4 linked regions of the Homo sapiens genome follow. The protein of the gene in region 3 purifies or fractionates together with the protein of the main gene of each other region. This does not show direct contact. Each region holds a gene or a part of one and is shown on either strand. Other genes may lie near its edges.

The links.
Region 1: the proteins of CASP10 (region 3) and DEDD purify together in Homo sapiens (affinity purification with western blotting, with the first as the bait; one study listed by BioGRID). This does not show direct contact.
Region 2: the proteins of CASP10 (region 3) and DEDD2 purify together in Homo sapiens (affinity purification with western blotting, with the first as the bait; one study listed by BioGRID). This does not show direct contact.
Region 4: the proteins of CASP10 (region 3) and EDA2R purify together in Homo sapiens (co-immunoprecipitation; one study listed by IntAct). This does not show direct contact.

Annotation. Positions count from the first base shown.
Region 1 is NC_000001.11:161,124,922-161,132,297, forward strand, and holds part of DEDD (death effector domain-containing protein), read right to left. Parts: intron 5,927-7,376; 5' UTR 5,894-5,926; intron 525-5,893; exon of another isoform or gene 1-524. UniProt on the Homo sapiens protein: A scaffold protein that directs CASP3 to certain substrates and facilitates their ordered degradation during apoptosis. May also play a role in mediating CASP3 cleavage of KRT18. Regulates degradation of intermediate filaments during apoptosis.
Region 2 is NC_000019.10:42,206,290-42,213,665, forward strand, and holds part of DEDD2 (DNA-binding death effector domain-containing protein 2), read right to left. Parts: intron 3,552-7,376; coding exon 3,411-3,551; intron 1-3,410. UniProt on the Homo sapiens protein: May play a critical role in death receptor-induced apoptosis and may target CASP8 and CASP10 to the nucleus. May regulate degradation of intermediate filaments during apoptosis.
Region 3 is NC_000002.12:201,211,640-201,219,015, forward strand, and holds part of CASP10 (caspase-10 isoform 1 preproprotein), read left to right. Parts: intron 1-5,948; coding exon 5,949-6,102; 3' UTR 6,103-7,376. UniProt on the Homo sapiens protein: Involved in the activation cascade of caspases responsible for apoptosis execution. Recruited to both Fas- and TNFR-1 receptors in a FADD dependent manner. May participate in the granzyme B apoptotic pathways.
Region 4 is NC_000023.11:66,626,519-66,633,894, forward strand, and holds part of EDA2R (tumor necrosis factor receptor superfamily member 27), read right to left. Parts: intron 1-7,376. UniProt on the Homo sapiens protein: Receptor for EDA isoform A2, but not for EDA isoform A1. Mediates the activation of the NF-kappa-B and JNK pathways. Activation seems to be mediated by binding to TRAF3 and TRAF6.

The sequences.
Region 1 (7,376 bases), on a different chromosome or scaffold from region 3:
CCCATCTCTACAAAAAAGAAAAAAATTAGCAAGGCATGGTGGCATGTGCCTGTAGTCCCTGCTACTCAGGAGGCTGAGGCAGGAGGATCACTTGAGCCCAGGAGTTCAAGGCTGCAGTGAGCCATAATCCTGCACTGTAGCCTGGGTGACAGAGTGAGTCCCCCATCTCGGAAAAAAAAGAACTAGTTTAAATTCTGACTGTATCACTGAAAGGCTGTGTAGCTGTGTGACCGTAAGCAAGTCACTTAACTCCAGATTCTCAGTGCTGTCATCTATAAACAGGGATGAATGAATATACACCTCAGAGTTGTTAAGAATCCAATGAGAAAATCACGGGTAACCCTTATATAAATGGTTGTGAAACATTTCAAAGATACAAGCATCCTTGGCCTTTGCAGCCCAGAATCATCCCTCCACATTTTTCCTACAATCCAACCACATCAAGAAATGATAACTGCTCAGAAAGTTTATCAATATTTACCAAAACTCATGGATTTAAAATAAACATTAAGTTTCTACAATAAGCATTCTTGTAATTCTATGCCATTTGTACTCCCTTGATCTTCACCCTATTTGGCAATATCAACTTTTTTTTTTTGAGATGGAGTCTCACTTTGTCACCCAGGCTGGAGTGCAGTGGTGCAATCTCGGCTCACTGCAACCTCCGCCTCCCAGGTTCAAGCAATTCTCGTGCCTCAGCCTCCCAAGTAGCTGGGATTACAGGCACGCACCACCACGTCTTGCTAATTTTTGTATTTTTAGTAGAGATGGGTTTTTACCATGATGGTCAGGCTGGTCTTGAACTCCTGACCTCAGGTGATCCACCCACCTCGGCCTCCCAAAGTGCTGGGATTACAGGCGTGAGCCACCGTACCTGGCCTTGGCAATACCACCTTCTAAGCTTTCCTCATGGATGTCATTTACCAATCCCCTATCAATGACCAATCACAGCTCCACATTCGTTATATAGTTTGGCTCTTGATTCACAAAGTTCCTCCATCGTTATGGGCTACAGGTAATACCAATGACGCAGCCATTAATCAATTCCCAAATTCAACAACTTTGACTCAAGTCACTCATACTTACTGCTCCACCAGACAGTACCATCCTATACTGTGCACTCTCTGGTCACACTCTCCAATCACACAATCAATCCTAAATTCCTGTTAATGCTACTTCTAGATATTTCTTAAATCTATCCTACCTTTCCACCTCCACTGCCATGGTTCAGATTACAATAATCTCTCACCTGGACTACTGTAACTTTAAAAGTTCTCTGCAACACCAATCTTAACCTACCTAAATCCATCCACTGCCACATCTAGTTCAGTTAGCTGTCTGAAGTCCACAACTGACCAAGTCACTTTCCTGCTTCAGACCCATTGATTGCCCCATCGTTATCTATAAGAACACTCCAAACTCTTTTTTTTTTTTTTTTTTTTGAGACAGAGTCACTCTGTCGCCCAGGCTGCAGTGCAGTGGCGCGATCTTGGCTCACTGCAACCTCCGCCTCCCAGGTTCAAGCGATTCTCCTGCCTCAGCTTCCCGAGTAGCTGGGACTACAGGCACCCACCACCACGCCCAGCTACTTTTTGTATTTTTAGTAGAGACGGGGTTTCACCATATTGGCCAGACTGGTCTCGAACTCCTGACCTTGTGATCCGCCTGCCTCGGCCTCCGAAAGTGCTGAGATTACAGGTGTGAGCCACCACGCCTGGCCGAACACTCCAAATTCTTTACACACACATCAAGCCTTCTAAGATCAGGCCTACCTTCCCAACCTCATTTCCCATCACATCCGCTTTTTATTCTCTAACATTATCAGTTTGTTTATAGTTCACATACATCATGCAATTTCTCTATACCTTCTTCAGGCTCTTCTCTTTGCCTGAATGCCCCTCTCCCTTCTCTATTCCACACCCCCATCATCACTCTTTTTCAGATGGCTAACTCCTACTCATTCTTTAAGAGTCAGCTCAGATGCCATCTTCAAAATGCATTTTCTACACCCCCATGCAGAGATAAGTAGTCCTCTTCTGTGCGCTTATGGAACACTATGCATATCTCCTTTACACCATTTATCACCATGTACTAAAATTATTTGTGTATTTATTATCCCATTAGATCCTACTCAACTCATGGAGAGATATATTCATCTTTATATCCCTAGTGCCTAGTAATGGACAGAGCCTCAAATATAGTGGGAGCAACCCACTGTTGAACTGAACTTAATCTCCAAGAGATCACCTCAAGCAATTCCAATTAAGAAACAAATTCACAAAAGTCCAAGAGAGGACCCCATTAAAAACAGATACAGGTAATTCAGTTACCATGCATATATTCTAACTAGCCATAGCCTCCTCTGCAATGTCCAGAACTACCCACACCATACCACACCACTCTACCCTACTCAACAATTAAACAGGTTGCTCTGTCCATTTTATACAAAAAGGAACTGAGGCTAGACTAGGAAACAATAAAATAATAAGCTTCTTTGGAAAAACAAAGCTGATAGAGAAAGCTGAAGAGTAAGTAGGAACTGGTCCTTTCTTCCTCAGATGAAAAACTAAAATGAAAGCACAGAGAAACTCATTCCCTTAAGAAAAGGGGAGGTACACTCTGGGATCACTTAACCCTATACCATGGGTTCTGATATGTAGACAGGAAATGTAATCCATATATAGTTTTGAGAGCCCAGATGCCCCACCCAAAGCATGGGAAATAGCTATTCAACTATAGACTGGTATTCCTTGCCTCTTCCTCTCGATTCACCTGTTGCTGTTACTGGGTACAAATGAAGGTGCTAAAGGAAAATAAGTTATTGCTCATAGCAGGCAACATGAGAAAACTGAGCCTCCTCAGAGCCCCTGCAACTTCTCTTTGTTCCCTATCCCACCTGTTCCCTTGGGCCAGCTGTTGATTGTGAGGCTCTCAGATAAAGCAGATTGGGTAGGTTTCACATTAAACCAACCAGAAGAGCTGGTTGCTCCACAGTTCCCTAATTTAAAGTGTGCTTAAACCCCAGGAAATGAAGAAACACTGTCCCCACATACCCTCGCAATGGAAAATAAGGCAAAATACAGGAAAGCACTGTGGTCCTAATTATGTATCAATGGATGTAATTCTATAAGCTTCAATCCTTTGAAGTTAACTCCCTACATTTGAGAGGAAACAAACACACTAGCCACCTTTAAGTCCTAGATCCCAGGCTAGATCATCAATGTACTAGGAATTATAATAGCTTTTAGGTCAGTGGTTCTGAACCAGGGGCAAATTTGACCCCTGGGGAATATGTGGCAATGTCTGGAGACATTTCTGATTATTATGCCTGGTGGGGAAGGGGACTGCCATCAGCATGTAATGAGTAGAAGCCAGGGATATTTAGAAACATCCTATAGGACAGGTGCAGTGGCTCCCGTCTGTAATCCCTGCACTTTGAGAGGCCAAGGTGGGAGGAACACTTGAGCCCAGGAGTTTGAGATCAGCTTGGACAACATGGTGAAACCCCATCTCTATGCAAAATATAAAAATTAGCCTGGCGTGGTGGCATGCACCTGTGATCCCAGCTACTTGGGAGGCTAAGGTAGAAGAATCGCTTGAGCCTGGGAGGTCGAAGCTGCAGTGGGATGTGATAGCGCCACTGCAGTCCAGCCCAGGTGACAGAGTGAAACCCTGTCTCAAAAGAAAAAAGAAACATCCTGTAATGCACAGAACAGTCTGCCACAACAAAGAATCATGCAGCACAAAATGTCAATAATGCCAAGGATGAGAAACCCTATTCTAGGTGGAGCATGGTAAAGGGTCAAAAGAATGCATGTCACTTTCCACACTAGATCTAGAAAAAGCCATCTGGTCCCTCCATCCAAACCCATCAAACAACATTCCAGAAGAAAAGAAAAGCCTGTCGGACATACATGTTCATTTAACTCCCAAGTCCAACTGCACTAAGGTGTTTCATGCCACTCCAACCTTGGGTCCTCTGTCACCTGCTGTTGCCATTCAGCTGAGGAACAGGTGGTAGTTCTACATCCACTTCTGCCCCATCCCAGGAGGTCTACTTTGACCTAGTTCAATCTGGAGTTCTATGGGGATATTAGAAATGTAATCCTCTGCAAGACAGACACAAAGGATCCTGCTCGTAAGCCTCAGGGTCATCTTTAAAGTCTTGGAACTGGATGAGCAGCAAATTCTCCTTGTGAGGTCACTAATCAGACTTATATTGCTTATTCAATGAAGCAAACATAGAAATATGTAAGTTCCTCAAGGCCATGTGCTTGGGAGAAATATGAGGATACTGTCATGCAGGTTAAGAGGCAGCCCTCTCCACTTAATGCAACCCAGATAAGGGTTCCAAGAATCTATCTAACTTTAACATTAAAAGAATGTGATGAGGCCTCGCATGGTGGCTCACACTTGTAATCTCAACACTTTGGGAGACCAAGGCAGGAGGACTGCTTGAGCCCAGGAGTTCGAGACCAGCCTGAGCAACATGACACAACTCCATCTCTACAAACAATAAACAAAAATTAGCTGGGCATAGTGGGACATACCTGTGGTCCCAGCTACTCTGATCGCACCACTGCACTCCAGCCTGGGGTACAGAGTGAGACCTTGCCTCAAAAAAAAAAAAAAAAAAAGTGATGAAAGTTCAGCTGATTAGTAAAATTAGAAAAGAAAACATGACCAATTTCCTCTAAAACCAAAATATACTCGTATTTCTGTGACAGTGAAGCAAGGGAGCTCAACTTAAAACATACAGAGATTCTAGATGACAGGTATCAGAATGGTGAGGAGAATGTAACCCTCTGAACAGAAAATTAGAACTAACTCAAGTCTTGGTATCTGAAACACTGCCAAATACCAAGAGACGAAACTCCAGCACACAGAAAGTCCTGATCCCACTGACTGGTCTGGCTGTATTTGAGATAGTAACACATGAATTCTCCCCTACAGTTTCCCAAGAATAATTGATTCTGAGGAATTGTTGTATTTCCTGGAGTTTTGCTTTTTTCTTTAGAGAAGTCCAAGTCAGCCAAGGGCCAACAGTCTATAGGTATCTTCAGGATTTCCTCCTGATTGGTCCTTCTCTACTATGTTTCTACTTCCAAGCAAAGTCTGGTCTCATCCCAACCAGGAATATCTGTAGTTTTTGAGGTACTTGGCTCTCTCAGAAGCCCTTAGGGGAAAGCGACATGAAAGAAATAAAAAAGAGTGCTGTCTTGAAATGAAAATGACAGTCATCTTTTCTGAACAGGGATGATATTTGTAATTTCATAGAATTAAGAGATATCTGACTCTCTCAGAAGTCCTCAGAGGAAAAGTCATGCAGAAGAACTACAAAAAAAAGTGGTATCTTGAAACTTAAATTAAAACTACATAGAAAATCTTAAAGATGGTTAAGAGTACATTCTTGCTGGTGGGATAGGAAATGTAATCAAATATCTGGAAGTCAGAATTACATAGTATGTTTTCAAAAGAAGGATGCCAGGAACCCCCCAACAGCTGAAAGAGAAAGTTAGAGGAAAAGTTTCCCACGGAAGGAAGGTGTCCCAGCAACCCTCCAAGGGCAACATTTAGTAGACAATGTACTAGAATACAGCCTTCCATATGTTAAAAAAAAAAAATGTTTCAGAGCTGACCAAGAAGACTAGACAATAACAAACCAAAGCTGGGGGATTGTCCCAAGACATCTAAATCTCCTTCTCTTTCACCTCCTATCTCCAATTAACTAAAGACAGTGATTACAACAGATCTCATGCACTCAGATGGATGAATGATAACTCATTTTCCCTGGCATTCTCCTCCTCATTAATGGACCCAACCTCAAAATAACTCCCATGCTATTTCCATTCCCTTCCATTGTTTGAAAACAATAAAAAAGTTCCAGACTTACCTCCGCAAGAAACTTAATTTCCCAGGTCTCTTCCTAGCACAAGTTTCACAGCCAGCAGCAAAACAAAAACAAATAAGGAGGGGAAAATAATTAATTTTCAAGTTTTACTTTGAAACCTCAGAGGCCCATAGAATTAGACAATCTCGTTGCAAAAGTACACAGACAAGCCTAAAACCATTTAGAGAACTCACCCCCAACAAGTCTCCAGGCTTCCCTAACTCTCTATTAGTCAATTTACAAAAACAATACCAACTCCAAGAATTTCCAGTCTCAATGGCTTGCGGCAAGACAGCTCCCAAATTTAAGAACTTCTGGGAAAACCAATTACCCTCTGGCAGCTTCTCATCTTCCTCCACAATTCCTTATTCCTATTTTGTTACAATATTAACGTTAACTTTCACCTTTAGAAAAAACTGGGAGGAAAGTGGTTACAGCAGACCAGCACTATCCTCCAAATTCTACATTTGGCCCTTTCCCTTAACTAGCACACAATGAGAACAAAATATCTAATGGCGCAGCATCCACTCATACGTCTATGTTTCACCAGGGAAAAGTTTTTCTACATACAGTATCCATGTTACCCCCTCCCTTCCAGACTTAAAACAGCAAAAGGGTCTGGAAACTACAGCACTCATTTAATTAACCTGTCTAGATGCCACTCTATCTTTTCTCTTTCCCTCCTCAGACTTCCAGAGCCTCCACCTTAGCATATAGGGTTCCAATATAGCCATGTCTGCTCCCCCACTCTTGTATTGCTAATGCTAAAAACTAGAAAAGTCCTTTGCTCCTCCACACTTGGGCGACACCGGCTTCCCCATTTTCCCAAGCAGGAAAAACAAGGGAACAGTAAGCTAGGGAGTCTTTTGGAAAACAAACCCAGTTGAATTCTCATCCAACCCCAATTCTGCAAACCCACATGACCATTCCCTTCTGCCCTTCCCACCCTCTTAAAAGCTAAGGGCCTGGCAATTAGAATTGGCTGCAACTGATGCTGCTTAACTCTGTTCTCTCCTCCTCTCCACCGGGGAAAGGGAAACCCCCGAACCTCTATCACCCGTGCAGCTCCACTGTCCTATCTCCCATTCCACTCCCCTTCCTCCCAAACTTTCTTCCTCCCAGTCTCTCACTTTCTCCATTACCTCCTCCCACCGACACTCTCTCCATTCCCCAAGCCTCCGTTCTCTCCTTTTCCACCCAAATTCTCCCCTAGGCCCTTCCCCCTCCCACCTCCAATTTAACACTTTCGAAGCCCCCCAGAAACGTCTTAACTCCAATTCTGACCTTTACCCACCTCCTCGCAACACCCCTCATCAGAGTCCAGTCCTCCCTCCAACCACATGCCACAGCCCCCTTCCCCTTCACACCCTCAGCCTCTCCCTCCTGCTCCTACCCCCTTCAATACGAGCGGATCGCAGCCCCACTCCCCACCTCGGCCTCTCTAATACCCCTGGCTGGGCCCAGTCTCAGCCCTTGTTTACGCCCC
Region 2 (7,376 bases), on a different chromosome or scaffold from region 3:
GCCCTTGAGCACTGGCACATCCCACTTGGGCCTGTGCTCCCGCTGTCCTCTCCATCGGGAACACCCTTCCCCTGACATCTGAAATCTCTCTCTTGGCTTTCTCCCACCACAGCACAAGCTCAATGAGGGCAAGGTCTCCCACCCCGGCTGACCTAGCATATAGTAAATACCCTATAAATACATATGGAATAAACAAATAAACAAACCCAAGTTTCAGCCAAGCTCTGCCCCCTGCCACTCAGACTAGTGACCGCCTTTCCCTGATCGTGCCTCTTCCTTTGCAAGATGTCATCCCACCTCAATGGCTGTCTTGAGAATTCAGGGCCGAGTAGTGCCCACCACAGACCCTGAGAGGCACATGGTCGCTCAGATGTCCTGTGTCCAACCCTAGGACCACCAAGGTGTCCTTCCTCACTGTCTCAGGCAGTCGAGAGTTTGTCTAGTTCTATCCCTCAATGGAGGGCAGCTGGCTGGGGGTCACAGGTATCACAGGTGAGGAAGAGTCAAGAATAGCAGGCCTCTTCTTCAGTCAGGCCTCCTTCCACCTCTGGCATTCGGCCTCTCTAAAAAGTAAGCCATTCCATTTTTCAGAGGGAAAAACAGGAGCCCAGATGGGGAGAGCCTCACTCCAGCCCCACCCTGCCTGGTGAGTCAGCAGTCAGACCTGCTCACCCATCTCCCATCAAGACCTAGCCAAGCCCTGGTTAACGACCTCCTCGCCTCGGGAAAGAGACCTGAAGCCTCCCTTGGCCTGTTCCTATCTTCCTTGAGGCAATGACTCCCTCACCTGCCCAGCCAGCCTGGTGGCTCTGGGAATTACTGGCTGATTCGAGGGGGAGTCACCACCAGGCAACCACCCCCTCAAACCCTGCCGCGCAAGCCCACATAGCTGCCTGAGGACCCAGGGCTGGCTCTCTAGGTCTGTTCCTTCTGACAGCACCCAGCACAGGTTATCTGCTGCCTCATCTACAAAGCAGGCATGATGCCCACTCCCTGGAGGGCCATTATGGGCACTAGGAGGGGGCAGGTGCGCGTGCTTTGTGGGCTGGAGAAAGCTCTGCAGATGGTAGAAGGAAGCACCCCCAGGCCAAGGTCTCCTAGAAGACAGGACATGCCAGCATCTCACCAGCTCCAACTTGGTCTTCTGACCTCCAGCTTCCACAATGGCCTCCTCCCCTGAACCCTTCCACTCCCCCCAGGGGCCTCCTCCCCTCCCTCAGCAGCCTCAGCCCTTTGCAGGGGCTCGGCACCACCCCTGGCCTCATGTTTCATTAGGGCACTTGTCACTAGCTGATGCCGTCTGCTACGCTGGCTTATTTTCGAGTTATCTGTCTTGCCCACTATAACGTAAACTCCTGGAGGCTGAGGACTTTCTTCACCTGGTCCAATTCTGAGCCCTCCGTGCCTGGAACAGTGCTTGGCATAAAGATGATCCTAATAAAAACTGGATGAAGGAATTAACAAACCCTTCCATGGCTCCCTCACCCACCACCCCCTAGAATAAAATCCAAACCAAGGCCCCCCACCTGCCTCATCTCCCCCTGCTCCCACCCACAAAGCCTCTGCTCCAGACAGACTCAGCCCTGACCACATCCGGCTGGGGACGTTGTACGCATGAGTCACTCTGCCAGAATCACCCTTCCCAGCTCCTCTTCCAGCTTCCTTGAGCTTGTTCTAGACATGGCACCTCCACAAGGAAACTGGGGCTGGCCAGGAGACTCCCTGCACACCCCAGAGCCCCTGCACTCACAATACCCGTGCCACCTGTCACATCAGCCTGGCTGCCACTTCCCTCATCTGTCTTCCCTGCAGCCTGAGAGCTCGAAGACCATATCTGATCCCTTCTGTGTTTCCCAAGCTTGCCCAACTAGAGAAAGGAGTACTACAGTTGAGGCGGTGCTCATTGCTGTGTCCTCCCCACATGACCAAGTGGAATTTCTCAAGAGCAAGGTCAAAGTAGTCTCACAGCAGAGTCCCCAACCCACCCAACCCATCGTGTCTACAGTCAGCCCTATGGCCAGTGCCCTTCCTTATTTCCTAGGTCACTTCTCCTCACCCTCTCCAACACGACCCCCAGGCCAGACCTCTGCCTAGTCCTTCTCCACAGACCTCACAGCCTCTTCAAGCGATTAATTTAATCTACGTAACACATGCCTAGCAGAGCACCTACTAGAAGCCCAGTGCATCCTAAACACTTTGAAAACCCTAACTTGCTTATTAACTGATTTTCCAGATGGAGTTAGAGTTCCCTGAAGAGGAATCACATCACGTCACCCTCCTGCTCAAAACCCACTGCCAGTGCCTGGCGCATGGAATAAAATCCAAACTGTCATCCCTGCCGTGGCCCGCGAGGCCAAGCTGCTCCGGCCCCAGCCTGGCTCCTCCACCTGCTCCCACCCTCTCTTGGTGGCACTTATCATTGTCTAAAATGATCTTCAGTTTCACTGGTCACCTGACTAGGTCAGCTCCACAAGAGCCGGGAACCTTGCTGCAGCACTCCTGCCCCAGGCACACTGCACAGCAACAGTGAGAACAAACCCTCGTACAGCGTGTGCCGGGTTGGGCACTGCTCCAGGCATACTGTGGGTAAATTTGTTTTCTCACAACAATCCAAACAGGGAGGTGATTATCAGCCTCACTTTACAGATGTGGAAACTGAGGTGGATGGCTGGGTGCGGTGGCTCACGCCTGTAATCCCAGAACTTTGGAAGGCTGAGGCGGGTGGATCACTTGAGGTCAGGAGTTCAAGACCAGCCTGGCCAACATAGTGAAACCCATCTCTACTAACTAAAAATACAAAAATTAGCTGGGCGTGGCAGTGGGTGCCAGTAATCCCAGCTACTTGGGAGGCTGAGGCAGGAGAACTGCTTGAACCCAGGAGGCGGAGGTTGCAGTAAGCCAAGATCACACCACTGCACTCCAGCCTGAGAGACAGAGGGAGATGGCGTCTCAAAAAAAAAAGAAAAGAAAAGAAACGAAACTGAGGCAGAGAGGTTCAATTACTGGCCTGAGGTCAGACAACTTATTTAAGTGCCAAGACCAGGATGTAAATCAGGCAGCCTGATCCAGGATCGTTGTTTTTTTACCCCGTGATATGCTGCCACTGCACAAGAAATGTCTGAATAAGTAAACCCCGGCAGATGTTTGCTGAATACACAAATGAAACTAGGGCAGGGGGTTGTCAGGAAAGGCTTCCTGAAGGAGGTGGCACAAGATCTGATCCTTCAACAATGGACAGGATGTAGACAGGCAAGATGGCGAGAGAAAGGACAAGAATTCCACTGTGGTGAACGAGAGCTGACACCCATCTGCCAAGTGTGTCACATCCCCCAGAAAAATGCTCATTTCTCCCACCCTCTGAACCCACCCGGGGCACTCTACATGCATTGCCAAAGCCTACAGACACCTACCACAGGTCACTTTGCCTTCAGAGGAAGGTCTGGCGGGCTCTGACTGCTGCTGGGGTGCGGCTGGGGCCCCTCTCCGCCGCCGTCTGGCACCACCACTGGGCCGGCCCCGACTCCGCCGCTGCCGCTTGGTTGGGGGGGAGCCTGAGGGGAAAAAAATGGGGCAAGTTGAGGACCAGGATGACAGCTAGAGTGCCCAGGTGTATGCCTGGAAAAGAACTCAAGGTGTTCTCGGTGCTGAGACCCTGAGTGAGCCAGTCTGCCTCCCTTCTTCAGTGGCCCTGTCTAAAAGATGAAGAGTACCATCTAGCATCATCTAGAAGGGCAAATGAGTACACCCCAGCACGCTGCAGCAGGCTCACTCCAGGTGTGATGTGACCCTAGAGAAATCCCTGCACACTTACACCAGGAGACACACACGACAACCGCCACCAGGGCATTGTTTATCATGATGAAAACCTGAGAACAACATATCTGGCAAGAAGAAACAGGAATATAGGGAGATGTCCAGGATAGACTGTTTAAGGAAATAAAGCAAGATACAAAATAAGTGTCTACAGTGTGCTGTACTTTGCATAAGGAGGGAAATTAAGATTATATATATCTGCAAAATGAAACACTAGAAGCACAGACTAGAAATGAATGAATTGGGGGTGAGGGGCACCCAGCAGTAGAAATGACATGTCTAAAAATACTTTTCATACTTTTTTTTTTGAGACCGAGTTTCGCTCTTGTTGCTCAGGCTGGAGTGCAATGGCACAATCTTGGCTCACTGCAATCTCCGCCTCCCGGGTTCAAGCAATTCTCCTGCCTCAGGTTCCCAAGTAACCGGGATTACAGGTGTCTGCCACGACAACCGGCTAATTTTTTGTATTTTAAGTAGAGATGGGTTTCACCATGTTGGCCAGGCTGGTCTCAAACTCCTGACCTCAAGTGATCCACCCGCCTCGGCCTCCCAAAGTGCTGGGATTATGGGCATTGAGTCACCAAGCCCAGCCCCACACTTTAGTTTTGACTTTTGACTCATATAACTGATTTACACACTTAAAAAGTTAAAATGAAATAAACCATAAAATTAACACAAATAGGCCGCACACGGTGTGGCTCCCGCCTACAATCCCAGCACTTTTGGAAGGCCGAGGTGGGTGGATCACTTGAGATCAGGAGTTCGAGACCAGTTTGACCAACATGGTTGAAACCCTGTCTCTACTAAAAATACAAAAATCAGCTGGGCGTGGTGGCGCCTACCTGTAATCCCAGCTACTGGGGAAGCTGAGGCAGGAGAATTGCTTGAACCCAGGAGCTGGAGGCTGCAGTGAGCCGAGATTGTGCCACTGCACTCCAGCCAGGGTGACAGTGTGAGACCCTGTCTCAAAAAAAAAAAAAAAAAAAAATTAAACACAAACAGAAGAAAATGAACCTGGTCGGATGTTGTGGTTCATGTCTGTAATCCCAGCCTACGCCCTAGGAGTTCAAGACCAACCTGGAACCCGGGCAACATGGAAAAACCCGTCTCTATTAAAATAAAATGTAAAAAAATTAGCCGGGTGTGGTAGCACGTGCCTGTAGTCCCAGCTACTTGGGAGGCTGAGGTGGGAGGGCTGCTTGAGCCCAGGAGATCTAGGCTGCAGTAAGCAGTGTTTGCGCCACTGGACTCCAGCCTGGGAAACAGAGCTAGACCCTCAAAGGGAGAAGGGAGAAGAAAAGGAAGGAAGGAAGGGAGAGAGGGACGGAGGGAGGGAGGGAGGGAGGGAAGGAGGAAGAGAGGGAGGGAGGAAGGGAGGGAGGGGATTGTATACATAATTGGTAACAGGAATACTCAGATGAAACAATTATTCAAGTAACTTGAAGAACATTCTGACTGTAAAATCTCAATGGGATATGCTCAGAGAACAAGAAACACAAATAAAATCTATGTTTCATTCACTAGATACAGTCAGCAGTTGTACTGACTTTGTTATTTTGATGCTATTTAATTACTGTTGTAAAATAAATCAAACAAACCCACATCTTAATGTTATTAAGAGGAAAGACTTTTAGTATAAAAAAGTCTGGCTGGGGCTGGGTGCAGTGGCTAACACCTATAATCCCAGCATTCTGGGAGGCCGAGGCGGGCGGATCACCTCAAGTCGGGAGTTCGAGACCAGCCTGACCAACATGGAGAAACCCTGTCTCCACTAAAAATACAAAATTAGTCGGGCGTGGTGGCACATGCCTGTAATCCCAGCTACTCAGGAGGCTGAGGCAGGAGAATCGCTTGAACCCGGGAGGCGGAGGTTGCGGTGAGCCGAGATTGTGCCATTGCACTCCAGCCTGGGCAACAAGAGTGAAACTCTTTCTCAATAATAATAATAATAATAATAATAAATTAATTAATTAAAAAGTCTGGCTGGGAGCAGTGGCTCACACCTATAATCCCAGCACTTTGGGAGGCCAAGGCAAGCAGGTCACCTGAGGTCAGGAGTTCGAGACTAGCCTGGCCAACATGGTGAAACTGCGTCCCTACTAAAAATACAAAAATCAGCTGGATATGGTGGTGTGTACCTGTAGTCCCCGCTACTCAGGAGGCTGAGGCAGGAGGATCACTTAAACCTGGGAGGCAGAGGTTGCAGTGAGCTGAGATGGCGCCACTGTACTCCAGCCTGGGTGACAGAGTGAGACTCCATCTCAAAAAAAAGTATTTGTGATGTTTTTGTTTCTTTGTTTAGAGTGGGGATCTCGTTCTGTTGCCCGGGCTGGAGTCCAGTGGCATGCCACCACACCCGGCTCGTTTTTTTTTTTTCTCTGAGACAGGGTCTTGCTCTGTCACCCAGACTGGAGTGCAGTGGCATGATCTCAGCTCACTGCAACCTCCACCTTCCCAACTCAAGCAATCCTCCTACCTCAGCCTCCTGAATAGCTGGGACTACACGTGCACATCACCATGCCAGGCTAATTTTTATATTTTTTATAGAGACAGGGTTTTGCCATGTTGCCCAGGCTGGTCTCAAATGCCTGGGCTGAAGCAGTCCACCCGCCTTAGCCTCCCAAACTGCTGGGGCTACAGGTGTGAGCCACTGCACCCGGCTAGGTTTTTTATCTTTTTAGACACAGGGTCTTACTATATTGCCCAGGCTGATCTCGAACTCCTGGCCTCAGGCAATCCTCCTGCCTCAGCCACACAAAGCACTAAGATTACAGGCATGAGCCACCAAACATGGCTATAACATTAATCTTTAAAATACTAACAGAAACTTTTTGAAAAGTCAAGTCTCTAACACTGTTCACTGAAAGAACCTAGAACAATATACACACTCAACACCCAGGTTTTGGTCTCTAAATACCACAGCTTCCTTGAAAAACAGCTGATTCTAGGGTGCGGAAGGGAAAGTTCAAAGTCAGCCCAGGACATCTTGCAGTGCCACAAAGCAGGAAGCACACAAAGAATGATACAAACACATGAAGAAGACACAAGAGGCTAGCCAGTTGGAACTGCAGGAAGACTGACTGACTGTAACAAGTCAGTAAATAGTGTATGGGTCTATAGTGACACTCAAACTCAAAGGGGCATTGGGGGAATACCTCTTGAAAGAGAAAGAAAAAAGAAAAAGAATTAGAAAAATCACCATTTTGCAAACACCAATGTGATAACTGGTTCAGGCAAAGCTCATAGATGTGAAACCCACTGAGTAAATGGCTATTAGGGAACAGGATATGCCAAAGTATCACCCCATAGACTGTTTACTAACCATGAGAACTAAATGTCCCTTCACAATGGACAAACATGGCAGATATCCCCTTAACCAAGTGACCAAACTTTCCCACATCGGAAAAGCCAGGCCGTACATGCCTGGAGATGTACTCCAATATGAACTAGATGGCAGCAACCAAGGATTATTCCTGCTAAAGATGTATAAACTGAATCTAACCAAGCCTCAGACACAATTCCCATTTAACAAAAAATGTAAGGGAAAGAGGGACGAGTTACAT
Region 3 (7,376 bases):
TTCCATATCTTGGCTATTGTAAATAATGCTGCAGTAAACTGGGAGTGCAGATATCTCTCTGACATATTGATTGCATTTTCTTTGTTTATATACTTAGTATGGGGATTGCTGGATCATATAGTATTTTTATTTTTCATTTTATGAGGAACTGGCATACTATTTTCCATAATGGCTGTACTAATTTTCAATACCACCAACAGTGTGTAAGTGTTCCCTTTTCTCCAGATCTTTGCCAATATGTGTTTTCTTTTGTTTCCTCGATAATAGCCATTCTAACTTGAGTGAAGTAGCATCTCACTGTGGGTTTTTTATTTTTATTTTTATTTTTTTTTAGACAACATCTTGCTCTGTCAGGCTGGAGTGCAGTGGCGCAATCTCAGCTCACTGCAGCCTCTGCCTCCTAGGTTCAAGCAATTCTTCTGCCTCAGTCTCCCGAGTAGCTGGGATCACAGGCATGTGCCACCACGCCTGGCTAATTTTTGTATTTTTAGTAGAGACAGGGTTTTACCACGTTGGCCAGGCTGGTCTGGAACTCCTGATCTCAAGTGATCCACCCACCTCAGCCTCCCAAAGTGCTGGTATTACAGGCGTGAGCCACGGCGCCCAGCTGTCACTGTGGTTTTGATTTGCATTTCCGTGATGATTAGTGATGTTGAGGGGTGGAAGCGGGTAAGTAGGAAAACTCCCACCACAACTATAGTGCTAGAGTGAAGTAGGGCTGAGACTGGGGTTGGGCCTTCCAAGGCGGAAGGAAGTCAGGGGTGGAGGCCAAGTTGGGCTGATTTTCCTGCTGCTGCTAAGAGAAAACCAATTAATGGAAGAAGGTTGGGGGTAGGGTTAAGGATAAGTATTTGTTGAGGCTCTCATGTATTGGATGATGAGAGGAATCATGCTATAGCTAAAATAAAGCCAATGTCACCAATGCGATTGTATAGAATTGCTTGGAGGGCTGCTGTGTTAGCATCTGCTTGGCCATGTCATCAGCCAATTAGTAGAAAAGATATAATTCCTACACCCTCTCATCTGATAAAGAGTTGGAAAATGTTGTTGGCAGTAACTAGAATTAATATTGTGGTGAGGAAAATAAGTAGGTATTTGAAAAACTGATTAATGTTCAGATCTGCCTTCATATATCATATTGAGAATTCTATAATAGATCAAGTGATAAATAGTGCTACTAGAATAAACATTATGGAGAATTAGTCTAGTTTGAAGCTTAATGAGAGTTTTAGGGTTTGGATTGTTATTCAATATCAGTTTGAGATGATGGTTTCTTGGTCTGTACACATAAATGTTGTGGGAATGAGGCTAATGGTGAAAGTGCATGCGACAGCTATTTTTACATAGTATGGATATGAGTTCTTTTTGTGAGGGTTGATAAAGGTAATAATAATTGGTAAGGTTAAGGAGATTAAGGTTATTATAGTAATGGAAAAATACATGATTATTACTTTTATTTGGAGTTGCACCAATATTTTTGGTTCCTAAGACCAATGGATAACTCTCATCCTCTAAAAGTTGAGAAAACTATGTTGTTAGGCATGGAGGCATGAGTTAGCAGTTCTTGCAAACTTTATCGGTAAATAAGAAGTTGCGGACTTCTATTATTAGACCACAATCTAACATTTTGATTAAACTATATTTACAAGGTATAAGTCCTATAATAATTTTAGGATTTAGAGATAGTAAGAGAATTGGTGAAAGGTGTATGAGTATTAGTATGTTTTCTCGTGTAAAGGAAGGTTTAATGCTGTTAATATAGTATGTTAGTGTTCCTTGTTGTGTTGTGACAAGTATATAGAGGGAATAAAGGGCTGTGATTAATATATTAAGTCCTATAAGCATGATGGTAGTGTTTGATCAGGAGAATGAAGCCGTTGTTACAAGGAGTTCTCCTACTAGATTAATAGTGGGGGGTAGGGCAAGGTTGGTGAGATTTGCTGTAAGTCATCAAAAGGTTACTAGTGGAAGTAATGTTTGACGTCCTCGAGAGAGTAATATGATTCAGCTGTGGATTCACTTGTAGTTTGAATTTGCTAGGCAGAATAGTAGGGACGAAGTAAGTCCATGGGGAATTATGAGGATAATTGCACTGGTAAAACTTCAGGGGGTTTGAATGAGGATAGCCACAGTAACAAGTACCATGTGGCTTACGGAGGAATGTGCAATAAGTGACTTTAGATCAGTTTGTCGTAGACAGATGGAGCTTGTCATAATATGCCTCATAAGGATAATATCAGGAAAGGATAGGCTATATGTTCTGTCAGAGGGCTGAGGATGAGGGTAAGTCGCATTTTGTGTAGCCGCCCAATTTTAGGAGCACTGCTGCAAGTACTATTGAGCCAGCCTTAGGTGCTTATACATGGGCTTTGGGAAGTCATAGGTGAAGTCAGTATAGGGGTATTTTTACTATGAAGGCCATTATACATGCCAATCACATGAGATTGTTGGATCAGGAGATTGGTAGTTCTTGATATTAAATGTTATTATTATCATGCTCAGTGAGCCTAGGATATTTTGGGCATAAATAAGTGTAATAAGTAGGGGGAGGGATCCCACTAGTGTGTAAAATAAGAGATATGTACCTGCATTGAGGCGTTCTGGTTGGTTACCCCATCGGGTGATAATAATTAAGATAGGGATAAGTGTAGCTTCAAAGAGAATATAAAATATAATTAGTTCTGTGGCTGTAAATGCTATGATTAGAAAAATTTGTAGGGAAATTAATATGGAAATACAGGGTTTTTTCCATAGGGGTGATTCACTGGAGAGGTGGTACTGGCTTGCTATAGTTATAAGAGGTAGTAGTCAGGCTGTTAAGATTAGAAGGGGTGATGTTAGCGGATCAGAGGAGAAAGTTAATGAGAAGTTGAATAGATTGTCGTTGAATTAGTTAAAGAATAATAGGGCAATGAAGCTGGTGATTAGGCTGTGGGTAGCCATATTGATTCAAATTGTATAATTTTTAGAGAGTCATGTTATTGGTAGTAGTATAATTGTAGGAATAGTTATTTTTAGCATTGAAGTAAATTTAGGTTATGTATGTAGTCTAAGCCATATATGTTGGAAATTGAAAGTAGCAAAGCAAGGCCTACCCTGGCTTTGCAGGCAGCAAATACTGGTAGAGTAATGGGTATTACATTTGCTAGGGTGAAGTGTATATTTAAAGCTATAAGGGTATTTACTATGAATAATGATAATATTATTCCTTCTAGGCATAGGAGGGATGATATTAGGTGGGACTGATAGACTAATACCCCCAGAAGTGATATGATAAATGCTAATATGATACTTATGTAAATAGAGGGCATTTGGTAAGTATGTTCTATCATAATCTAATGAAATCATTTATTTTGCCTTAAACTACTTATTTTTTTCTTATACCTGTGGACCATTTGTATGTCTTCTTTTGAGAAATGTCTGTTAAAGTCTTTTGCCCATTTTTAAATGGGGTTATTTGTTTTTTTGCTGTTGAGTTATTTAAGTTCCTTATGTATTCTAAATATTAACTCCTTGTGAGATGTATAATTTGCAAATTTTTTTCCTATTTTGTAGGTTGTCTCTTCCCTCGGTTTTTTTTTTTTTTTTTTTTTTTTTGCCGTGCAAAAGGGTTTTAATTTGATGTAAACTCATTTGTCTATTTTTGCTTTTGTTGTCTGTGCTTTTGAAGTCTTGTTTTAAAAATCCTTGCCCAACCCAATGTCATGATATGTTTGCCCTGTTTTCTTGCAGCAGCTTCATAGTTTCAGGTTTTACATTTAAGTCTTACACATTTTGAGTTGGTTTTTGTTTATGGTGAGAGGTAAGTGGTTAGTCTCATTTTTCTGTGTATGGATATTCAATTTTCCCAGCACCGTTTTTTGAAGAGATTCTCTTTTACCTATTGTGTGTTCTGGGCACCTTTGTCAAAAATCAGTTGGCTGTAGGTGTGTGAATTTATTTCTGGGATCTATATTCTGTTCTATTGATCTATGTGTCTGTTTTTATACCACTACCATGCTGTTTTGGTAACTCTAGATTTGTAGTATATTTTGAAGTCAGGTGGTGGGATGCCTCCAGTTTTGTTCTTTTTGCTCAGCATTGCTTTCACTATTTGGGGTCTTTTGTGGTTCCATATACATTTTAGGGTTTTTTTCCCTATTTATGTGAAGAATGTAATTTTTTTGTTTGTTTTTGTTTTGTTTTGTTTTAGAGATGGGGTCTTGTTATGTTGTCCAGGCTAGACTTGAACTCCTGGGCTCAAGCAATCCTCCCACCTCAGACTCCTGAGTAGCTAGGACTACAGGCATTTGCCACTGCACTTGGCTTGTCACTGGTATTTTGATAGGGACTGCATTAAATCTGTAGGTCACCTTGGGTAGTATGGTCATTTTAACAAGATTATTCTTCTAACCCATGAACACGAGATATCTTTCCATTTATTTGTGTCCTCTTCACTTTCTTTCATCAATGTTTTATAGTTTTCAGTGTTTAATATTTAAGTTAATGATATTTTAATTGTTTAATATTTATTTAATAATTTTATTATTCAATTATTATTTAATATTAATTTAAATAATATTTAAATTAATAAGAAAAAATTAGCCAGGTGTGGTGGCATGCACCTGTAGTCCTAGCTATTAGGGAGTCTGAAGTGGGAGGATTGCTTAAGCCCAGAAGTTTGAGGCTGTAGTGAACTACAATCGCATTACCGCATTCTAGCCTGGGCAACAGAGCGAGATCCTGTCTCTAACAAAAAGAGGCAATTTCAGGAAGTGATCCCTGCCATGAACAAATCAAAACAGGATAATGGTAGTTTCTTGGTGGAGGTAATATTTCAGGTGAGACTAAATGATAAGAAGGAAACAGACACAGGAAGATTTGGGAATAGAGAGCAGGTGCAAAGCAAGATGCAGGGATTGAGAGCAGGTAAGGGCCTGCATCCCTTCCCTGAAAAATAGTGATAGTTAAGGATGAGGGGATGAGAGTAGTCATACTAATACTAAAAATGATGGTCAGCAGAACAGTGTAGCCAGTGTTCTAAGTGCTTGACCCAATATACATCCTTTAATGCTCTCGGCAACCCCTAAGATGGGGACTGTTATGGTTCCTATTTTAGAGCTGGGAAAACCGAGGCATGGAGCAGTGAGTAACCAGCCTAAGAGCACACAATGAATGAATGATGGAGCCACAATTTAAAATTGAATGTGTTTTCAGAACCTGTGCTTGCTTCCAGTGATATGTATTGCCTACCCTGAGAACGTTCTGCTAAATGCTATATGTCCTGCAAGCCCAGGCTCAAATGCTACCATCTGCATGAAGCCTTCTCTCTCCCTCCCAACCAGAAATGCATTCTCCTCTGAACTTGCAGTGGAACCTTGACCTTTCATTTGGTGTTGACCACATTCTGCCTTGTGTTATGAATATTGTGTATATGCCATCCTCGGTAAATGTTTCATATCTGCATTCTAAGTGGTTAACTTCAGGAATTGTGTCATGTCTATCTTTGTATCTCTCCCAAGACTACAGATAGAGAGGGCATTGTTGGTATCTGTGGCATCTGCTGCATATTTGTTGATCTAAGACCTGGTACATGGTACCTGGTGTCTTTTCTAAGACCTGGTGTGTGGTTTCTACCTCCTGACTGAAAAAAGTTTCTTCTCTGGGCCAGGCACAGTGGCTCATGCCTGTAATCCCAGCACTTTGGGAGGCCGAGGTGGGTGGATCACCTGAGGTCAGGGGTTCGAGACCAGCCTGGGCAAGCAATATGGTGAAACCCCATCTTTACTAATTAGCCAATTGTGGTGGCAGGCACCTGTAATCCCAGCTACTCGGGAGGCTGAGGCATGAGAATCACTTGAATCCAGGAGGTGGAGGCTGCAGTGAGCTGAGATCACACCACTGCACTCCAGCCTGGGCGACAGAGTGAGACTCCGTAAAAAAAAATTTTGTTTTCTTCTTTGTTGCAGACATGAAGACATCTTATCCATCCTCACTGCTGTCAACGATGATGTGAGTCGAAGAGTGGACAAACAGGGAACAAAGAAACAGATGCCCCAGCCTGCTTTCACACTAAGGAAAAAACTAGTATTCCCTGTGCCCCTGGATGCACTTTCATTATAGCAGAGAGTTTTTGTTGGTTCTTAGACCTCAAACGAATCATTGGCTATAACCTCCAGCCTCCTGCCCAGCACAGGAATCGGTGGTCTCCACCTGTCATTCTAGAAACAGGAAACACCGTGTTTTCTGACACAGTCAATTCTGATTTTCTTTTTCTTTTGCAAGTCTAAATGTTAGAAAACTTTCTTTTTTTTGGAGATAGTCTCATTCTGTCACCCAGACTGGAGTGCAGGGGGGCAATCACGGCTCACTGTAGTCTCGACCTCCCAGGCTCAAGCTGTCCTCCCGCCTCAGCTTCCCAAGTAGCTGGGACCACAGGTGTGTACCACCGTGCCCGGATTTTTTTTATTCTTTATTTTTTGTAGAGATGGAGGGATCTCACTTTGTTGCACAGGCTGGTTTCAAACTCCTAGGCCCAAGTGATCCTCCCACCTCTGTCCCCAAAATACTGGGATTATAGGCACGAGCCACCACACCTGGCCAGAAAACTTTCATTATTGAAGACTTGGATTGTAGCCTTGGTTTTGGATGTCTATTCTGAAGACAGAGTAATTGGCTTTGGTTTGTGCAGGTACTTTTTCTTTGAGACAGAGTCACTCCGTCACCTGGGCTGGAGTGCAGTGGTGGGATCACTGTTCACTGCAGCCTTGACCTCCCAGGTTCAAGCGATCCTCCCACCTCAGCCTCCCAAGTAGCTGAGACTACAGGTGTGTGTCCATGCACAGCTAACTTTTTATTTTTTTTGTGGAGATGGGGTTTCACTATGTTGCCTAAGCTGGTCTCAAACTCCTGGGCTCAAGCGATCCTCCCACCTCAGCTTCTCAAAGTTCTGGGACTACAGGCATGAAATACTGTGCCTGGCCTGGGGACCAGGTGCATTTTAAGGTTCCTTGGTGTTCAAAAACCACGTTCTTAGCCTAGATTGAGCTTAGATTGCCTCTCTAGACAACTACCCCTTAGTTATAATTCTGTGTCCCCTCTGCATGCCCTTAAACATTGGACAGTGAGGTCACAGTCCACCCACCCTCTCTCTGATCTCCCCCTTCCTAAGACTTCTCTTTTGCACATCTAGTGAGGTGAAAATTTGGTCTATGCCAGGCCCATTTCCTGCTTTTGTGTAAGGAAGGTGCTCACATAGGAAGTTTTTATTTGGTTAGAGACAGGTTTCCCTGTAGGAAGATGATGGCTCATTTACACTCAGCTGCTCTGCAAGCAGAAACTTTACAACCTGATGTCATATTCCATTTTGGACTGGGTGCGGTGACTCATGCCTGTAA
Region 4 (7,376 bases), on a different chromosome or scaffold from region 3:
ATATTAAACAATGAAACCTAAGAATAATCAGTGTTTCTGAGGAAGAAGAGAAATCTAAAATTTTGGAAAACATATTTGTGGCAATAACAGAAAAACTTCCCTGGCCTTGGTAGAGATCTAGACATCCAAATACAAGAAGCACAAAGAACACCTGGGAAATTCATCTCAAAAAAAATCATTGCCTAGGCACATTGTCTTCAGGTTATCTAAAGTTAACACAAAGGAAAGAATCTTAAGATCTGTGAGACTGGAAAGGAAAGGAAGAGGAGGGAAGGGGAGGGGAGGGGAGGGGAGAGGAGGACAGGGGACAGGAGGAGAGGAGAGGGGAGGGGAGGGGAGGGAAAGTGTAAAAGCACCAGGTAACCCACCAAGGAAAACCCATCAGATTAACAGCAAATTTCTCAGCAGAAACCCTACAAGCTGGTAGAAATTTGGGCCCTATATTCAGCCTCCTAAAAATATACAACTATCAGCCAGGAATTTTGTATCCACTGAAAGTAAGCATCATATATGAAGGAAAGATACAGTCTTCTTCAGACAAACAAATGCTGAGAGAATTCACCACTACCAAACCACCACTACAAGAACTGCTAAAAGGAGCTCTAAATCTTGAAACAAATTCTGGAAACACATAAAAATAGAACCTCTTTAAAGCATAAATCACACAGGACCTATCAAACAAAAACAAAATTTAAAAATAACAAAAAAGCAAGATACACAGGCAACAAATAGCACAATGAATGCAATGGTACCTCACATCTCAATACTAACATTGAATGTAAATGGCCTAAATGCTCCACTTAAGAAATACAGAACTGCAGAAAGGATAAAAACTCACCAACAAATTATCTGCTGCCTTCAGGACAATCACCCAACACATAAGGACTCACATAACCTTAAAGAAAAGGGATGGAAAAAGGCATTTCATGCAAATGGACACCAAAAGTGAGCAGAGGTAACTATTCTTATATCAGACAAAACAAACTTTAAAGCAACAACACTTAAAAGAGACAAAGAGGGACATTATATCATCATACAAGTCCTTGTCCAACAGGAAAATATCACAATCCTAAACATATATGCAAATAATACCAGAGCTCCCAAATTTATAAAACAATTACTAACAGACCTAAGAAGTGAGACAGACAGCAACACAATAATAGTGGCGAACTTCAATATTCTACTGACAGCAGAGATAGACAGCAACACAATAATAGTGGTGGAGTTCAATACTCTACTGACAGCACTAGACAGGTCATCAAGAGACAAAGTCAACAAAGAAACAATAGATCTAACCTATACCGTGGAATAAATGGAATTAACAGATATATACAGAACATTTCAACCAACAACCGCAGAATACACATCCTATTCAACAGTGCATGGAACTTTCTCCAAGATAGGCCGTATGATAGGGCTCAAAATGAGCCTCCATAAATTTAAGAAAACTGAAATTATATCAAGCACTCTGTCAGACCAAAATGGAATAAAACTGGAAATCAACTCAAAAAGGAACCTTCAAAACCATGCAGATACATGGAAATTATATAACCTGCTCCTGAATGATCACTGGGTCAAATACAAAATCAAGATGGAAATTAAAAAAATTCTTAGAACTGAATGACAATAACAACACAACCTATCAAAAGGACACAGCAAAGGTGGTGCTAAGAGGAAAGTTCATAGCCTTAAACACCTATATGGAAATGACTAAAAGAGCACAAACTGACATTCTAAGGTTGTGCCTCAAGGAACTAGAGAAACAAGAACAAACCAAACCCAAACCCAGCAGAAGAAAGGAAATAACCAAGATCAGAGCAGAACTAAATGAAATTGAAACAACAACAAAAAAAAACACACGAAAGATAAATAAAACAAAAAGCTGGTTCTTTGAAAAGACAAATAAAATTGATAGACCATTAGCAAGATTAACCAAGAAAAGAAGTCAGAAAATCCAAATAACCTCATTAAGAAACAAAATGGGAGACATTAGGACTGACACCACTGAAATACAAAAGGTCATTTCAGGCTACTATGAACATCATTACACACATAAAGTAGAAAACCTAGAAGAGATGGATAAATTCCTGGAAAAATACACCCCCCCAGCTTAAATCAGGAAGAATTATATATCCTGAACAGACCAATAACAGGCAGAGATACTGAAATGGTAATTAAAACATTACCAAAAAAAAAAAAAAATCCAGGATCAGATGGATTCACAACTGATTTCTAGAAGACATTCAAAGAACAATTGGTACCAATCCTTTTGGCACTATTCCACAAGATAGAGAAAGAGGGAAGCCACCCTAATTCATTCTATGAAGCCAGCATCACCCTAATACCTAAACCAGGAAAGGACATAACCAAAACAGAAAACTACAGACTAATATCCCTGATGAACATAGATACTAAAATCCTAACACAATACTAGCTAACTGAATTCAACAACATATCAAAAAGATAATCCACCATGATCAAGTGGGTTTCATACCAGGGACGCAGGGATGGTTTAACATACACAAGGCAATAAATGTGATATACCCCATAAACAGAATTTAAAACAAAAATCACATGATCATCTCATTAGATGAAGAAAAAGCATTCAACAAAGTCTAGCATCCCTTTATGATTAAAACTCTCAACAAAACCAGCATACAACAGACATACCTCAATGTAATGAAAGCCATCTATGACAAACCCATAGCCAACATAATACTGAATGGGGAAAAGTTAAAAGCATTCCCTCTGAGGACTGGAATAAGACAAGCATGCCCACTCTCACCACTCCTCTTCAACATAGTACTGGAAGTCCTCGCCAGAGCAACCAGGCAAGAGAAAGAAATAAAGGGCATCCAAACTGGTAAAGAGGAAGTCAAACTGTCACTATTTGCTGACCATATGATCATTTACCTTGGAAACCCTAAAGACTCCCTCAGAAAGCTCCTAGAACTGATAAAATAACTCAACGAAGTTTCCAGATACAAGACTAAAGTACAGAATTCAGTAGCTCTCCTATACACCAACAGTGACAAAGTGGAGAATCAAATCAACAACTCAACCCCTTTTACAACAGTTGCAAAAAATAATTAAATACTTAGGAATATATCTAACCATGGACGCAAAAAACCTCTACAAGGAAAACTACACAACAGTGCTGAAAGAAATCATAGACGATACAAACAAATGGAAACATCCCATGCTCATGGATGGGTAGAAACAATATTGTGAAAATGACCATACTGCCAAAAGCAATCTAGAAATTCAACACAATTCACATCAAAATACCACCATCATTCTTCACAGAATTACAAAAAAAAAATCTAAAATTCATGTGGAACCAAAAAAGAGCCCACATAACCAAAACAAGACTATGCAAAAAGAACAAATCTGGAGGCATCACACTACCTGATTTCAAACTATACTATAAGGCCATAGTCACCAAAACAGCATGGTACTGGTATATAAATAGGCACATAGACCAATGGAACGAAATCAAAAACCCAGAAATAACCCCAAATACTTGCAGCCAACTGATCTTTGACAAAGCAAACAAAAACATAAAGTGGGAAAAGGACACCATTTTCAACAAATGGTGCTGGGATAATTAGCAAGCCACATGTAGGAGAACGAAACTGGAATGTCATCTCTCACATTACACACAAATCAATTCAAGATAGATTAAGGACTTAAATCTAAGACCCGAATCTATAAAAGTTCTAGAAGATAACATTGAAAAAACCCTTCGAGACATTGGCTTAGGCAATGATTTCATGACCAAGAACCCAAAAGCAAATGCAATAAAAACAAAGATAAATAGCCGGGACCTAATTAAACTAAAGAGCTTTTGCATGGCAAAAGAATCAGTCAGCAGAGTAAACAGACAAACCACAGGGTGGGAGAAAATCTGCACAATATATACATCTGACAAAGGACTAATATCCAGAATCCACAATGAACTCAAAAAAATCAGGTAGAAAAATCAAACAATCCCACCAAAACGTGGGCTAAGGACATAAATAGACAATTTTCAAAAAAGATATACAAATGGCCAACAAACATATGAAAAAATGCTCAACATCTCTAATGATTGGGGAAATGCAAATCAAAACCACAATTTAATACCTCCTCACTCTTGCAAAAATGGCCATAATCCAAAAATAAATAAAAACAGTAGATGTTGGTGTGGATGTCGTGAACAGGCAACACTTCTACACTGCTGGTGGAAATGTAAACTAGTACAGCTGCTATGGAAAACAGTGTGGATATTCCTTAAAGAACTAAAAAGAATCATATATATATATACACACACACACACACACACACACACACAAACACACGTATATATATATACACACACGTATGTGTATGCATATATACATATATACACACACATGTACATGTGTGTATATACGTACATATATACACGTATGTGTGTATACATACATATATACACGTATGTGTGTATGTACATAAAAACACACGTTTGTGTGTATATATACATATACACACACATGTGTGTATATGTATATATACACATATATATTGATGAGATTCGAGACTATTATTCTTAGTGAAGTAACTCATGAATGGAAAACCAAACACTGTATGTTCCCACTGATATGTGGGAGCTAAGCTATGAGGATGCAAAGGCATAAGAATGACACAATGGACTTTGGGGACTTGGAGGGAAGGCAGTGAAGGGGGGCGAGGGATAAAATACTACAAATAGTGTGCAGTGTATACTGCTCAGGTGATGGATGCACCAAAATCTCACAAAACACCACTAAATAACATATCCATGCAACCAAATACCACCTGTATCCCAATAACCTATGGAATTTTTTTTAATTAATAGATTAAAAAATACTGAGGCTCAGAGGGAAAATATACAACTATCTTTATTTGGCTAGCAAAAAGCAAGGCAGAACCCAAAGGTCATTTAGAAGCTATGAGTCTGGCACACTTTTCAAGGCAGTATTGAACTCTAAAATAGAGAATGGAGGTCCTCCCAGTCTTCACTGAAATTTTTTCTTCAGTGATATTTCAGGATGGGCAAAAAAGCATTTTATTAATGTTAACCTGAGTGCATTTTAAATAATGGTTTGATAGGGTTACTGCCCAAGCTTTAGGAGACAAGGGCCAGGTCAAAGGTGGTTACAATAGGAACAGAGAGGAATGATGGTGGGAGATACAAACCTTACAAAGTGAAGACAAACAGAATGACCAGAGTTAGAGATTCTGGGAGTTTCTGCCTGGGAAACCAGAAGAATCTAAGTGCCATGAGAAGCGTGAAAGGAGCGCAGCTTGGTAAAAGAAAAGAAAATGCACTGTTTTTCAATTATTTTCAGTATAGAGAAGTTGAAGGGGACAGAGGAACATTTCAGTGGTCATGCCCAACAAGCATATACAATATGTAAAATATAAGTTGAAGTTGGAGATGTGTCAAATGCATAAAAACACCAGAATAACAGTTCTTGCTTATGGCTGCACATCAGAATCATATGGAGCACTGAAAAAAAAATCCTACGCTCTAGATTAATTAAATAAAAACCTCTGGGGTTGGAATAACCACTGGCCGAAGTAAATCATGGCAGAAGTTAAATCATGGGTAAAGAAGAATGGCTGGATGCAGTGGCTCCTGCCGGTAATCCCAGCACTTTGGGAGGTCGAGGCAGGTGGATCACTTGAGGTCAGGACTTCAAGACCAGTCTGGCCAACATGGCGAAAAACTGTATCTACTAAAAGTACAAAAATTAGCCAGGCGTGGTGGTGCATGCCTGTAGTCCCAGCTACTCGGGAGGCTGAGGCAGGAGAATCGCTTGAACCCTGGAGGCAGAGGTTGCAGTGAGCCGAGATTGTGCCACTGTACTGCAGCCTGGGTGACAGATTCTCAAACAAAGAAGAAGAAGAAGAAGCAGGAGGAGGAGGAGGAGGAGGGTGAGGAGGAGGAGAAGGGAAGAAGGAAGAAAGAAGGAAGAAGGAAGGAAGAAGAAAGAGGAAGAAGAACCAAACATTGAGGGTCACTCATACTTGAAGCTGGAAGAGGAGGAATACATGACAGCAACGAAGAAGGGGAAGCCAGAGAAGAAAAAAAAAAAAAAGAACCTTGATAGAGTAGAATAGGACAAAGCTTTAAGAAGTAAGGGATGAGTAATGTGTCAGCTATTGATACTGGGACGTGGAGGAGGCCAGGACTGAGGATGTGTCATTTTTATTTTATTTCATGGGCATGTGATAAAAGTAAATTATCTTTTTGTGTTTAAGTATACTAAAATCTGTGCCTGGAATAGACATAATGTAGAGACCACAGGTGGGTACTACAGTTTTTAATGGGCTACTTTCAACATTTCCAAAGTGGCTGAAGAATTTTAACTGTTAGTGATAGCAACATCTGGCCCAGCAATGTCAGGAATAGTATATCAACAGAGGAGAATGAACCTGCGCAAAATTAAAGAAGTCTCATCTATTCTCCTTTGTCTTTTATTCTAGCGCACAGAGCAAGAGGTAAAGCCCCAGCTGGGGAAGAAAAAGAAAAAAAAATCCTTACTAAAAGCTGTTGTCATTGTACAGACAAAATTAATAACCAACTGAACTGGGCTACTTCCACTTGGCCAAAAGTAAATGCTAACCATATGAGTCAATTGTTTTGCCTTCAAAACATGCGTACGTGCACAAAGACAACAAACAAAGCACAAACCTCAAAAGACAAATACAACTTAGCAGACTGTAAATTAAAAATATAAATATTTGGTTAGTGTTTGGCAACTGCTGAAAAATAATTGTTAAACGAATGGGGAAAAGAGACTGTGTAGCCAAGAATACAAAGATACCATTATAAAAGAAATAGGATGAAATTAAGAACAGCAAACTCTAGGCTGATTTTGAGGGAAAACGTTCTTCTACTGACTGCTAAAATACTCTTCCCAAGTGGGAGCAAAAGCACAGAAACTACCCTGGATTATGTTCAAGGGTAAAATGAGATAATGTATGTGAGAGTGCTGTGGAAACTCCAGATTGTGCTACGTATGTGAGGAGTTGCTATGATTGTTGTTACTATCCCACCCAGAGCTGGGGAACAAAGGGTATTGGAGACAAGCCCCAAGCCAGACCGGCACTCAGCTAACACCTGAAACCTCTTGCTTTGCTCTGCTGTTATCCTAGCCAAAGTGAGTCACTGGTCATGTACCAATCACCACAAGATTCCATAAAATTACGGTATAATAAAAAAATTAGTTACTCAACCAGCAGTACTGGAAGGGGAGATAAGCTGACTTCCCAAGAAGGCTTTTGGCTGAGTTGTCCCAGTTGGGTATTGAATTCATGGTATGATTTATTTGCAGGATTGGGACTGGATAAAACTCAGTCAAGTACTC